2 linked regions of the Homo sapiens genome follow. The protein of the gene in region 2 interacts with the protein of the main gene of each other region in a pairwise test. Each region holds a gene or a part of one and is shown on either strand. Other genes may lie near its edges.

Evidence for each region. The genes of interacting proteins can lie anywhere in the genome.
Region 1: the proteins of CENPC (region 2) and MEIKIN interact in a two-hybrid assay, tested with the Homo sapiens proteins (one study listed by IntAct).

Annotation. Positions count from the first base shown.
Region 1 is NC_000005.10:131,942,656-131,950,277, forward strand, and holds the start of MEIKIN (meiosis-specific kinetochore protein), read right to left. Parts: upstream 3,009-7,622; 5' UTR 2,851-3,008; coding exon 2,745-2,850; intron 2,595-2,744; coding exon 2,501-2,594; intron 2,098-2,500; coding exon 2,010-2,097; intron 41-2,009; coding exon 1-40. UniProt on the Homo sapiens protein: Key regulator of kinetochore function during meiosis I: required both for mono-orientation of kinetochores on sister chromosomes and protection of centromeric cohesin from separase-mediated cleavage.
Region 2 is NC_000004.12:67,468,232-67,472,504, forward strand, and holds the end of CENPC (centromere protein C), read right to left. Parts: 3' UTR 531-4,273; downstream 1-530. UniProt on the Homo sapiens protein: Component of the CENPA-NAC (nucleosome-associated) complex, a complex that plays a central role in assembly of kinetochore proteins, mitotic progression and chromosome segregation.

The sequences.
Region 1 (7,622 bases), on a different chromosome or scaffold from region 2:
ATGAACTACTATCAACCTGGAGGTCATCAGTAACTGATTCCTAAGTGAAATAAGAATTAAAGCTATAGCAAAATTATGAGATTGACCATTTCTATATTATAATCTTGTACAGATTTATTTTAGAAAAATGAAAACATCAACTTTTTATATGTTTCATATATATAATACATTCATTCAGTTTATTGTTCAGATGTAATCTGATATTTAATATTAAACCTAAAAATAAATATTAAAATATAATACTATGAACATATCTTGTAATCAACAATATGCTAGTCAAGTAACTACTGTGGGATGACAGCAAATAGAAGATAGAGGTGAATATTTTTCTGGTTCCCTAGTGGGGAGGGGCTTTTTTTCCATCTATAGAGGCAAATATATAAATCAAAAGAAAAGACTAGTAAGTCTAAAATACTAGAAATAAAATTAAAGGCAAGTAAACAAATATGGAAATATTGGTTATATATGTATGTACAAAAGTATAGCTATCTTTAATATTTAATAGACATTTCACAAAACAGTACAAATGGCCAATAATTTGAGAAAAAAAATATCGACTTCCCCAGCATTCAAAGAAATGAAAAGTAAAAAACATGCTACTTTTCATCTATCTATCTATCTATTTCATATATATACACACACATATATATAAAAGTTTCAGGTAAGATGGTGCTGATTTATCAACATGAATAAAAAAACTTGAAACATGATCCAACCTGTGATCCACTGCAAAGTATTTATCTTAGGGTAACAATGTGAGGTACACAAAAACCTTCTGTAACAGAATGTCTATGGATATCAATAACAGCAAAACCTTGGAAACAATCTCAATTTCCCAACCACAGGGAAATAGTAATACAAATTACAGTGTATCTATCTACAAGACAAAGCACTATGAAGACACTGAAAGTCATATTTTTGAAGACTATTTAATGTATGGGAATATACAATAAGACAACTGGTCATTTTTTTTAAAGCACAGGAGAAAAGGAACAGAAATATATAAAAATTTTAAGAAACTTTCAAAACACTATTTTTTCATAGTATAAATACTCTACAAGGACTACTTTACACTGTTAAACTATGGATAAAAGCCTTTTAAAAAAATGTCTTGTGTTGAAACTGCCTTCCCCCAAAAACATGTTATAAAGGAATATTAAGTTAAAAAAAAATAGAACTTGGCCAGGTGTGATGGCTCAAGCCTGTAATCTCAGCACTATGGGAGGCCGTGGCGAGCAGATCACTTGAGGTCAGGAGTTCGAGACCAGCCTGGCCAACCTGGAGAAACCCCCTCTATACAAAAATTAGCTGGGTGGTGGTATACACCTGTAATCACATCTACTCAGGAGGTTGGGGCAGGAGAATCGCTTGAACCCGAGAGGCAGAAGCTGCAGTCAGTGAGCCAGGACTGTGCCACTGCACTCCAGCCTGGGTGACAGAGCAAGACTCTGTCTCCAAAAAAAAAAAAAAAAGGAACTTGACTATGAAGTTTAATGTTAATGTCAGATGAGTCACAAGCAATTTTTAAAATCTGAGCTTCCCTAAATTAGTGCTGTACAACTTTAAAATATAGTACAGAATTCATATTAAATACAGCACATCAAGAAGTTATAAAATATTCTAATGAATAAACATTAGAATGCTCTGTAACATATTAAACCCTTAGTAATGAATGTTTCCAGTTGTTAATGGAAAATCAAATGGAAAACATGAAAAAAGGAGTTATTAAGTAACATTTTGTATTTGTCATACAGAAAATTCACCAATTATGGACGTTTCTCCAAAAACGTGTCAAGAGAAAGAGAAAAACAAAAATGCATGACTATGAATCTACCCAAGTCAGAAATTCAAGGCCCTGTCTAAAGACACGTAAGTGTTTATAAAAATACTGGTGAGCTATGTAACATCTACAGAACAAAGCCCATTTTATTCTTTCATCCGGAGGTACATCAGGTACTGATAGTCTCTACACTAAGTGTGTCCAAGGACTAAAAGAGAAGCATACATACACGCAACGATGCAATCTTCTCATCCTGGGTGTCTTCACTAGACCTATTTTCTTGCAGGCTTTTCTCTCCTGTAACTCCTAAGCGAGGGCTAACAAAGAGACAACGCAATTAGTTTGCACCATCTGGATTTGGCTCTCCACGTCTCTGTTCAGACTCTTTAGAATCTGAAAGGCTCTTTAGGGACATCTTTAGGAAGAAGTAAGGACCAGAGTGGTGACTTGCACCAAAACCCAAATGCAGTGACACAATCGTATAGCTCACCGACCAATTTATCTCACTTCCTTTTACGTAAATTGGCAAGCCTTCCCCTTTTTAAAAATAAATCTTCCTGAAGTCAAATTTTGGGGTCCATGTTCTGAGAAGAGCAAAATCAGAGTACTGTATTTGTTTTGCTCCTTGACTGTTAGAATAAAAGGCTACTAGCAGAAAATTCGGCTTGAAGTTTTCTGAGGTGGCAAGCTAGGATCGGGCTGTTACTGGAGGCTACATACCTGAACGGCCCAGAGCCGCTACCTCCCTGCCTGCTCCGCTCTGCTTTCTCTGCAATCTTCGACAAGCCGTGCACTTTGCCTTTTCTCTTCGAACCTGAGAGAGGGCGGCACGTTTCAGGGCAAGAAACCTACCCACCGGCTTCGGGGGGGTCCTGGGCCCGAGGCCTAGCACCCCCGCCCGCCCTCGGTCCCGTCCCGGAGGCAGCTCGGCTGAGCTTACGGTGGGCGAGCCTTGAGCCTGTACCTGGCGGGGCCTCGGCCTTCGCTGGAGAGCCTAGGTCTGGCGTCGGGGTGAGATTGAGCCTCTGACCCTCCCGCTTTTTGCGGGTATAGACCCGTAGCGGCCACATTGCTATCCCACCCTACCCCCAGGCCACGGGTGCCTCTGGACTCTCGATGGCCTGCCTTCCTGAGGATCAGGGCTAAGTCACAGGGAGTCAGCGTCCAGGCGAGGCCCGCGGAGCAGCCTCACAGCAACTAATCGAGCGAAAGCAAAAGCCCCAGAACTGGAGCCGCCGGGCCTCGCTCCCGCGCTTTTATCTCTGTGAGGCCGCGCAGAGGCTTCTGGGAAAACGGAGGAGCGCGGCAGCCGCCCAGCCTTCCTATAGGGGCCCAGTGGTTTCTGGCCTTCTGGCGCAGGTTCCTTCAACTCCAGCGAAACGAGAGTTTTTTGGAAAAAACTTTTTCCTCGTCCAGAAAAAGGTTTAATTCAGCCCCTCCTCCTCCGTCTGAGCACTTAGGTTTCGCCTGTGGCTGCATGCTTAATTCAACTGGGCATGCAGGAGTAAAGGCGTTCCCTCCTTTGGGTGGGCCCAACACTTCCTCTGAGCAAGCTCTCCCTATCAGCACTGCATAAGGCCTTAGTAATGGAGTTTTAGGCCACCAGCACAGGCAGTCTTGTGAGGGGTTGGCCTCAGTGCAGGAAGGTCACAAAGAGGACTGAATGCACCTTAAAGTGACAAGGAGCTTCTCCCTGAGGAATCAACTTCAGTCCCCTGGGCCTGCAACTGACTGGGAAGCTATGGTAATTAAGAGGCTAACCAAGCCTCTGAAGATCCCGGGCTCTAGGAGGCTGCTTCTGGACGACAAACAGTCCCTTAGCCTGTGTCCAGGAGCCATCTCTAGACATCTGGGCATCCTTGTGGTTAAGGTAGAAGATTCCATAGGGGCTCTCCTCCTTGTGCCCTGGGCCTCAACTTGTTGCTGCACCAGACCGATCTGTTTCTTCTTCTTCTTCTTCTTTTCTCCTTTCTTCTTTCTTCTTTCTTCCCCTTCCCCTTCCCCTTCTCCTCTTTTTTTTTTTTTTTTTTTTTTAAGACAGGGTCTGGCTTGTCACCCTGGCTGGAGTGGAGTGGTACAATCATAGCTCACTGCAGCCTCAAACTCTGGGCTCAAGTGATCCTCCCACCTCTGTCTCCCGAGTAGCTAAGACTACAGGCACATGCCACCATGCCCAGCTGATTTGTAAATTTTTTTATAGAGACGGGGTCTTGCTATGTTATCCCAGCTGGTCTTGAACTCTTGGCCTCACGTGATCTTCCTGCCTTGGCCTCCTAAATTCTTGGGACTACAGGTGTGAGCCACCTTGCCCAGCCTTGGTTCAACTTTTATGTAACAAAATTGTGAGTTGTTTTTCAGTTGCCATGAACCCTGAGGTCATGTAACCTGAGCATGCCTAGATGAACCAAGCATGCAGCCACAGGGGAAACCAAGTGCTCAGATCAAGGAGGAGGGACTGAATTAAGAAGTAGATATGGCATGGCAGGATCCAACCGGGTTGAGCTCTGGCTTCATCCCATAGCAGGATCCAGTCAGATCATGCCTCCCAGCATCACCTCATTACAAGATCCAATCAGATCACATCTCTTTACCCTATGCTTATAAAAACCAAACCAAACCCCAGCTTAGGAAGACAGATTTGAGCATTTCCTCCTGTCTCCTTGCCAGCCCACTTGCAATAAAGCTTTTCTTTTCCCAAAAGCCAGTGCCATGGTATTAGCCTCTGCATTCATCAGGCAGTGAGCCCATTGACTGCTCGGTAGCAAACTCTTCTGCTCTGTCAATTAGAGATATGTTGGAATTACCTCCCTTTCTCTCCATACCCTAGGTTGAACCATCTGGCGACATCAGATGAGCATATTATGCACATAACAATAACCATCTTTTTATTCTAAAAAGTGGAAATATTTCATAACATTTAAAATGCAGTTTGAAGAGATAAAACTATGAAAAGCTTAAAGGTTTTTCTGTAACACCTCAGTCTTGTATGTGCGAATATAAGCACATATATATCCACAGTATTTTTGTAATATAATCACTGAATATTTTATTTAAAATCTGCTCACAGAAACATTTATGATAATCAATTTACTAGATAATTAATCATCAAAATCTAGCTTTCTAAAGAACAGATGGTAGGCATTCTTACCTGGTTTTACCTCGGGTTTTGAGTCATTGAATCAATATTTACTGAACACCTTAATCTGTATTAAGCACTGTGGTAGGTCCTGGGGATACAGAAGTGAATCAGAAATGGTCCTTCAGTTAAAGATCTCACAGCCTTGCTGCAGTATAAAGCAATTATCATCTTTCAACATTCTTTCTTTAGTCGTGTCCATAATATGCTGGCAGGCAGTCTCTAGTTTACAAGCCAGGCCTTTATGCTCCCCCCTCTCCCTTTGGGGGCTGTTGTGAAAAAAATTCAGACTTCTTAAATGACATTTGGGAGGTCTAGAGCCTGGGGTGCCTTAGGCCCAGAAATGGAAGAAACATTGCAAAATGAAAATAGGTTAAACCAAAAGCTGGTCTGCCATTTGGTGGTCCTGTTCCCTAGAACTCTGTCTCACTATACTGAATTACATTCACTGATATGTCATCAAGTAATTCCCATAGGTTTGTGGGAATTAACGTATCAGGTTTCAAAACCAGAAATAAACTTTGATATGATTTCTTTAGCCAAAAGGGTCCTTAGAGATGATCTAGATGCCCCCTCATTTTGCCACTGAGGAAACCAGAGTGTAGGGAAGCTATTTAAAACAGATGATTGGCATAGGGAACATGGTTCTCCTGGCATCTGGCTGCTGCGCTTGTCATACTCCCATTCTTCCTAACACATGGCTGGGAGAAAAGTAGGGGGAGCAAAGAGAGGAGCTTGAATTCCTTGGTGGCAAGGGGAAGTGAAGGAACTAGAGACAGACTTGGTCTCTTTGATACTTCACCTAGAGTCAACCTATAAAGGGGGAAAGAAACGTGTCTCCTAAAAAGGATGAGACAGGGCAGAGATATCTCAAATTCAGTCATCTATCTCCCCCTACTCCACTTCCAAATCTGCAAACACCAGTGCAAGTGTTTAATCATGAGTGTTCAAACTTCTTCCATTTCCCCATTGCACTGCTTCCATACCTAGACCCAAAACTCAGTAATCAGCATTTCATTTCAACACATGGTGGATTTGACTAGGCTTGGAACAGTCATGAAGATATTAACTTCCATGGGAAAACAAATGTCAAAGAGATTTCTGAATAAATCTTTTGGGAAAACAGCCAGTTTGTGGGTTTGAGATTCACTGGAGCCCAAAGTAAATCCTTTTGAATGATGTTTTCTTATGGAGTAACCCACTGAGCATCTTTGTGGTGCTATCCGTGAACTATGGGAATCCAACCACAAACCAGTTTATTTTTGCTTGGATGACAAGAATGGAATAAATTACAGTGAGAGAGGAAATATACCTTCAGGTATTGCAGTCTTAATGCTATGCAACACAAGAAAAAGGACCAAGGGGATTTTCCTTAACATTTCTTTAGCATCTGCTATCAGCCAGAGCCGCACTGGGCATAAAACTTCAAGCAACTCAGTCTACGTGGGGGTGGGGCAAAAGGACCATCAACCAATCAACCACGTGGGAAGCTTCTCAGAGAAAAGGATGCTGGAATCTGAGTTTTAAAAGATGAATGGTTGGAGTTAGGGGAATTAGAGGAAAGGGCATTCTAGGAGAAAGGGACTATATGTGTAAAGGCAGGTAGGCACAAGAAAGTATGATGCTTTTAGGGAACTACAAAAGTAATGAATATGATTGGAGCCGAGGCTCCATAGAGGAGGGAGTAGAAGAGATGCTAGTCCCTGTGTGCTGAACCAGCGAGTTTGAAGTTTATCCTGGAAACTATGGGAAGTCACTGAAGGACTATTAAGCAGGAAAGTGGCATTTTCAATCTAGATTTTCAATTTAGAAAGATTGCCCTGGCTGAAATGTGGATGGCGAAATTTGAGGATGCTGGAATGGAAACATGAAGGCTAGTTAAGAAAGCACTGTAATATTCCAGACAAGAGATAAGGGTGGCACAAACTACACTAATAGCTGTAACAATAGGGAGGAATGGATGATAGCAAACATATGGAGAAGGCAGAATCTGTCTATCTTGGACACAGCAGAATTCATTATTTTAAGAAATTGTATCCATTATTCTGAATATGAGTAAAAGACATGGAAATTATATTTTAAAGGCCACCATCATGGAAAATTTGAAGACAGTTATTTGTTATGTATTCATAAAAATGATTTAAATCCAGGAGATATCTGACAATAGCAAAAATTCCAACAGAGGCTTGAGCAAAGGAGCTCTTCTCTGGATGGACCATAATTTCTTGGAGTTTGTGGAACTTTAACAGAGGACGTAGAGTACGGATGTAAAGTATACTGATTGGTAATGCAGCTTGGTACTATGTTTATCATAAGCAGTAACTGTGATTGATAATTACCAAATATACTCACATGAGGGTATTATATTATGCAAATATATAAAATAGTAATTATAAGCAACTTTGAGAAATGAAAAATCTTTTATTTTTTACAAAAATTTTCATAAATGCATTTTATATTTAATATGCATGCTACTATAACAAAGCAACTGAAAATGTAATTACAGTTAAGATACTTTTATGCATATTTAAAAAGTAATATTTTAATCCCCTCGATTTTTAAAAATTGAAAGTGGAATAAGCAATTCTTCAAAAAATATCCATTCTCCCCCATGCAACTGTTGCAATGATTTAACAAGGAAAATTAGAATAATCGGTCAAATGAATGTTTAAAAGCCACTGTCACCTCATGAAACCCTTTCCATTT
Region 2 (4,273 bases):
TGACGTGATAAAAGGCCTATGCTGATGGGATGAAGTGAGGTGAATGACACAGGCATTGTGACATAGCGTTAGGCTACTATTGTCAGGAGGATAAACTGCTTCAGGTGATCCTGGATCACAGAACCATGGTGGTATCAATGGTTGAAAGTCAAGAGCAGAAAATATTAATGACTAACGGGCAGGTAGTCTATAGTATAAATATGTTGGACAAAAGGAGGATTCATGTCCCAGGCGGGAGGGCATGGGATTTCATTATGCTATTTGGAACAGCACACAATTTGAAACTTATGGATTATTTCTGGAATTTTCCATTTAACATTTTTGGACCACGATTAACTGTGGGTTAATTGCATTCAAGGAAAGTGAAACCACAGATAAGGGGTTTATGAGACCACTGTGTCTCATAAATTGATTGTGGGAATGTAAAATGGTACAGCCAATCTGGAAAACAGTTTCCTAAAAAATTAAATGTATGCTTCCCATATGGGCATTACTCCGGAGAAACAAGAACTTAAATTTACACAAAAACCTGTAGGAAGTGTTCACTTCATCTTTATTTGTGGTACAGTCATCCATACTAGAGAATACCACTTAGCAATAAAAAAGAAATGAGCTATTGATAGGTATAACTGCTTGGATGATCTTAAGGGCTTTATGCTGAGTGAGAAAAACCAAAGGTCATACACTATATTATTCCATTGCTACAACAATATATAAGTGACAATATTACAGAGATGAAGAACAAATTAGTGATGATGAAACAGTTCTATGTTGATTGCAGTAGTTACACAAATTCACACATATGATGAAATAGAACTATACACATGCATTGTATCCTTGCCAAATTCCTGTTTTCTGCATTGTAGTTACATAGATGTAAGTAACCATTGGAAGAAATTAAAGACACATGCATCCATGTGGTAAGTAAATGGACAACAAACTGTGGAATCCTATCCAACAATAAAAATTAGAAAAATCATTAAAAAAACTCTCATGGGTGATGCCCACGATGGATTAATGGGTATCAAATTTGCCCTCCTCCAACAAACTTTAAAATAGAAAAAGATAAAAGGTAACTCTATGCAGACATTGGACAAAAGTGAAGGACGGTGATTCTTTTGTTTTCTTTTTTTGAGTCAGAGTCTTGCTCGGCTGCCCAGCCTGGAGTGCAGTTGCGTGATCTTGGCTCACTGCAACCATCATCTCCCAGGTTCAAGCAATTCTCCTGCCTCAGCCTCTGAGTAGCTGGGATTACAGGCACCTGCCATCATGCCCGGCTAACTTTTGTATTTTAGTAGAGACGGGGTTTCACCATGTTAGCCAGGCTGGTCTCGAACTCCTGACCTCATGATCCACCCGACTTAGCCTCCCAAAGTGTTGGGATTACAGGCATGAGCCACCATGCCCGGGTAGAAGTCTCTTTCTTTAAGACCCTTCATGAGCATGAGGGCTGCCTGACAAAGTAGGCAGGACTGTGATTCTTTAAAGACATGAAATTAACTCCATAGTCACCCAGTTTTATGCCTGGGGGCACTCTCCAAAACTGGACACAGAGAGTTAAGCTCAAAAAGAACAGTGGTCTTAATGGGCACAGAAAGATCACAATTTAGGGCTGTTGAGAAAACTGAATTGTGATGCAGGGTACAGAAGTGGAAACTCCACTGAAAAAGAGCTCCAGAAATCTGCACGAGGTGCCCAAGAACAGAACTTTCTGCAACTTGTATCTGTGACATCTAATGTGGTAGCCACCAGTACCATGTGCTACTAAGCACTTGAAATGTGGCAAATGCAAGTAAGAAACAATATTTTAAATTAATTTTAAATAGCTACAACTTGTGACTACTGTATCAGCCATTATAGCCCTAGAAGTTGGCTGAACAGTTGGCTGAACAGTAGGCTGCAAATGTGCAGAGCAAAATTCTGAGACATGACAGAAGCCTATGAGCTGAACAGAGTACAGAGGTGGCAAAAATCAGACGTGGCTCTGACCAAGCAGAATGGAGAGCCTTTGCTGAACCATATGGGCTTTCAGTTTAGACAAAGAAAGGCTACACTTAAGCTGGGCACAGTGGCTCACACCTGTAATCCCAACACTTTGGGAGGCTGAGGTGGGTGGATCACCCTGAGGTCAGGAATTCGAGACAGCCCTGGCCAACATGGTGAAAATCTGTCTCTACTAAAAACACAAAAACTAGCCAGGCGTGGTGGCAAGCAACTGTAATCCCAGCTACTCAGGAGGCTGACGCAGGAGAATTGCTTGAACCCGGGAGGTGGAGGTTGCAGTGAGCCGAGATCACACCATCGCACTCCAGCCCAGGCAACAAGAGTGAAACTCTGCCTCAAAAAAAAAAAAAAAGAAAAGAAAAGAAAAAAGAAAATAAAGAAAAAATATTGCTAAAGCTTTGGAAAAGAACTGTTGGAATCTGTGGCCTCCTTGAGTGAGGTCTCACCCACCCCTAGGTTGATTGGTAAAAACTACAGTTTTGTCTGGCTGTAGCTAACTGAAAAACTAGCAACTTTGCCGTAAGAGGAGTCTTGATTTACAGCAGAGGTATAAACCTACAACTTTGTAAGTCAAAAGTAAAAAAATCACTTAGGAATGGACAAGGAGTATCTGTAGTTGCTAACCAAAGGTTACAGTCCTAGTTCTTGAAGAGCAACAGAGCAGCCAGACATTTAACAAGGTCCTGGAAACAGAAGGGCAGAAAAGGGTAACATGAGCTCTCCAAACATCTTTGGCAAACTGAAATGATGCATGCACAGGGGAGACTCAAGAGAGCATGGCAAATGTAAAAACCAAGGGGAATTTGGGAACTGCCTCCTACAATGAATGCATCCCCCATCCCACACAGAACAACCAACAGTGGGTGGAAGGCTTATAGACTCAAGTGTTTGATCTTAACCTTTGTCCAAATGATTGGCTGACTGCTAAGCTATGCAGACACAGGAACTACCCCTAGCAAGCAAGAATAAATATTGAAATAAAGAACTTAAAAACTGAGCACAGACAGCAATAACTTCACATCATATATAAGATAGATTCCACAATTTGAGTCCAGTCAAAATGCTAAATTTAAAACAATACAAATCCCTTAGATATAAAACAAAATTGAGTTGCTACAATATGCTACCTAAAATGTCCAGCTGTCAACCAAAAATTATTAGACATGTAAAAACATATGAAAGTGAAATATACTAAAGGAAAAAAAGCATTCAGTGAAAACTAAATCTGTATGGGCCCAGATACTTGATTAGTCAAGCCTTCAATAAGACTTCATAACAAATATATTCAAAGAAATAAAAGTAAAAAAAAAATTAAAAATGACTCAATAAAAGAGAAATCACAATAGAAAATTATAAAGTATAAAAAAAGAGCCATCACACTTCATTCTTCCTAAGTCCTACACCAGAGTTGCTTTAAATGTGTGTATTTAATGGTTAAATAAGACCTGAAAAGGGAGTTGGCCTAAAAATATTTTTACCGTAAAACATCAATTTCTTCAGAGTTAATGAGAATTATATGCTAACCATACCAAAAACCTTGATTAGAATTTTTAGCTTAGATGTATTGATTGATATTAAAAAGGGAAAGTTGAGGCCACATACAGAAAGCAATGGCGAAGGACACTGCCTCCAACAGAAAATATGAACCAAAAAGCATAATGGAAAAACATTTACATGTAATATACTAAATAGATGTCATGCCAACACAGACACACAAGGTGAGAATACCATGTGATAATGCAAGTAGATTGAAATGCTACCGGTGCAAGCCAAGGAATGCCAGAAATTGCCAGTAAACCACCAGAAGTTAGGAATAAGGAAGGATTCTCTCCCTTACAGGTTTTCAAAGACATCACGGCCTTGACAACACCTTGATTTCAGACTTCTAGCCTCTAGAACTGAGATAATAAATTTCTGTTGCTTTAAGTCACTCATTTTGTGGTATTTTGTTACAGCAGTTCTAGGAAATTAATACAAACATGCCTTTTACCACAGTTCTCTCCCATTGGATTATTTAATAATAAATGATTTAAAATTAGTATTTGGAAAAGATGTTTTTTAATGAGTAGACATATTAATCAGGTCTCTTTTGACACAGAAATGTTCTATATTTCATTTTCATATTCTTGTCAAATTATAAAAATAATATCATAAATATGGACATCGCTACAAGCTATTATGTACAGTCACTGAAAAATCAGAAAAAACATGTGAGTTAGAAATGTTTATCAAATACAAGTCTACAGAAAACTGAATAAAATTTTTATTT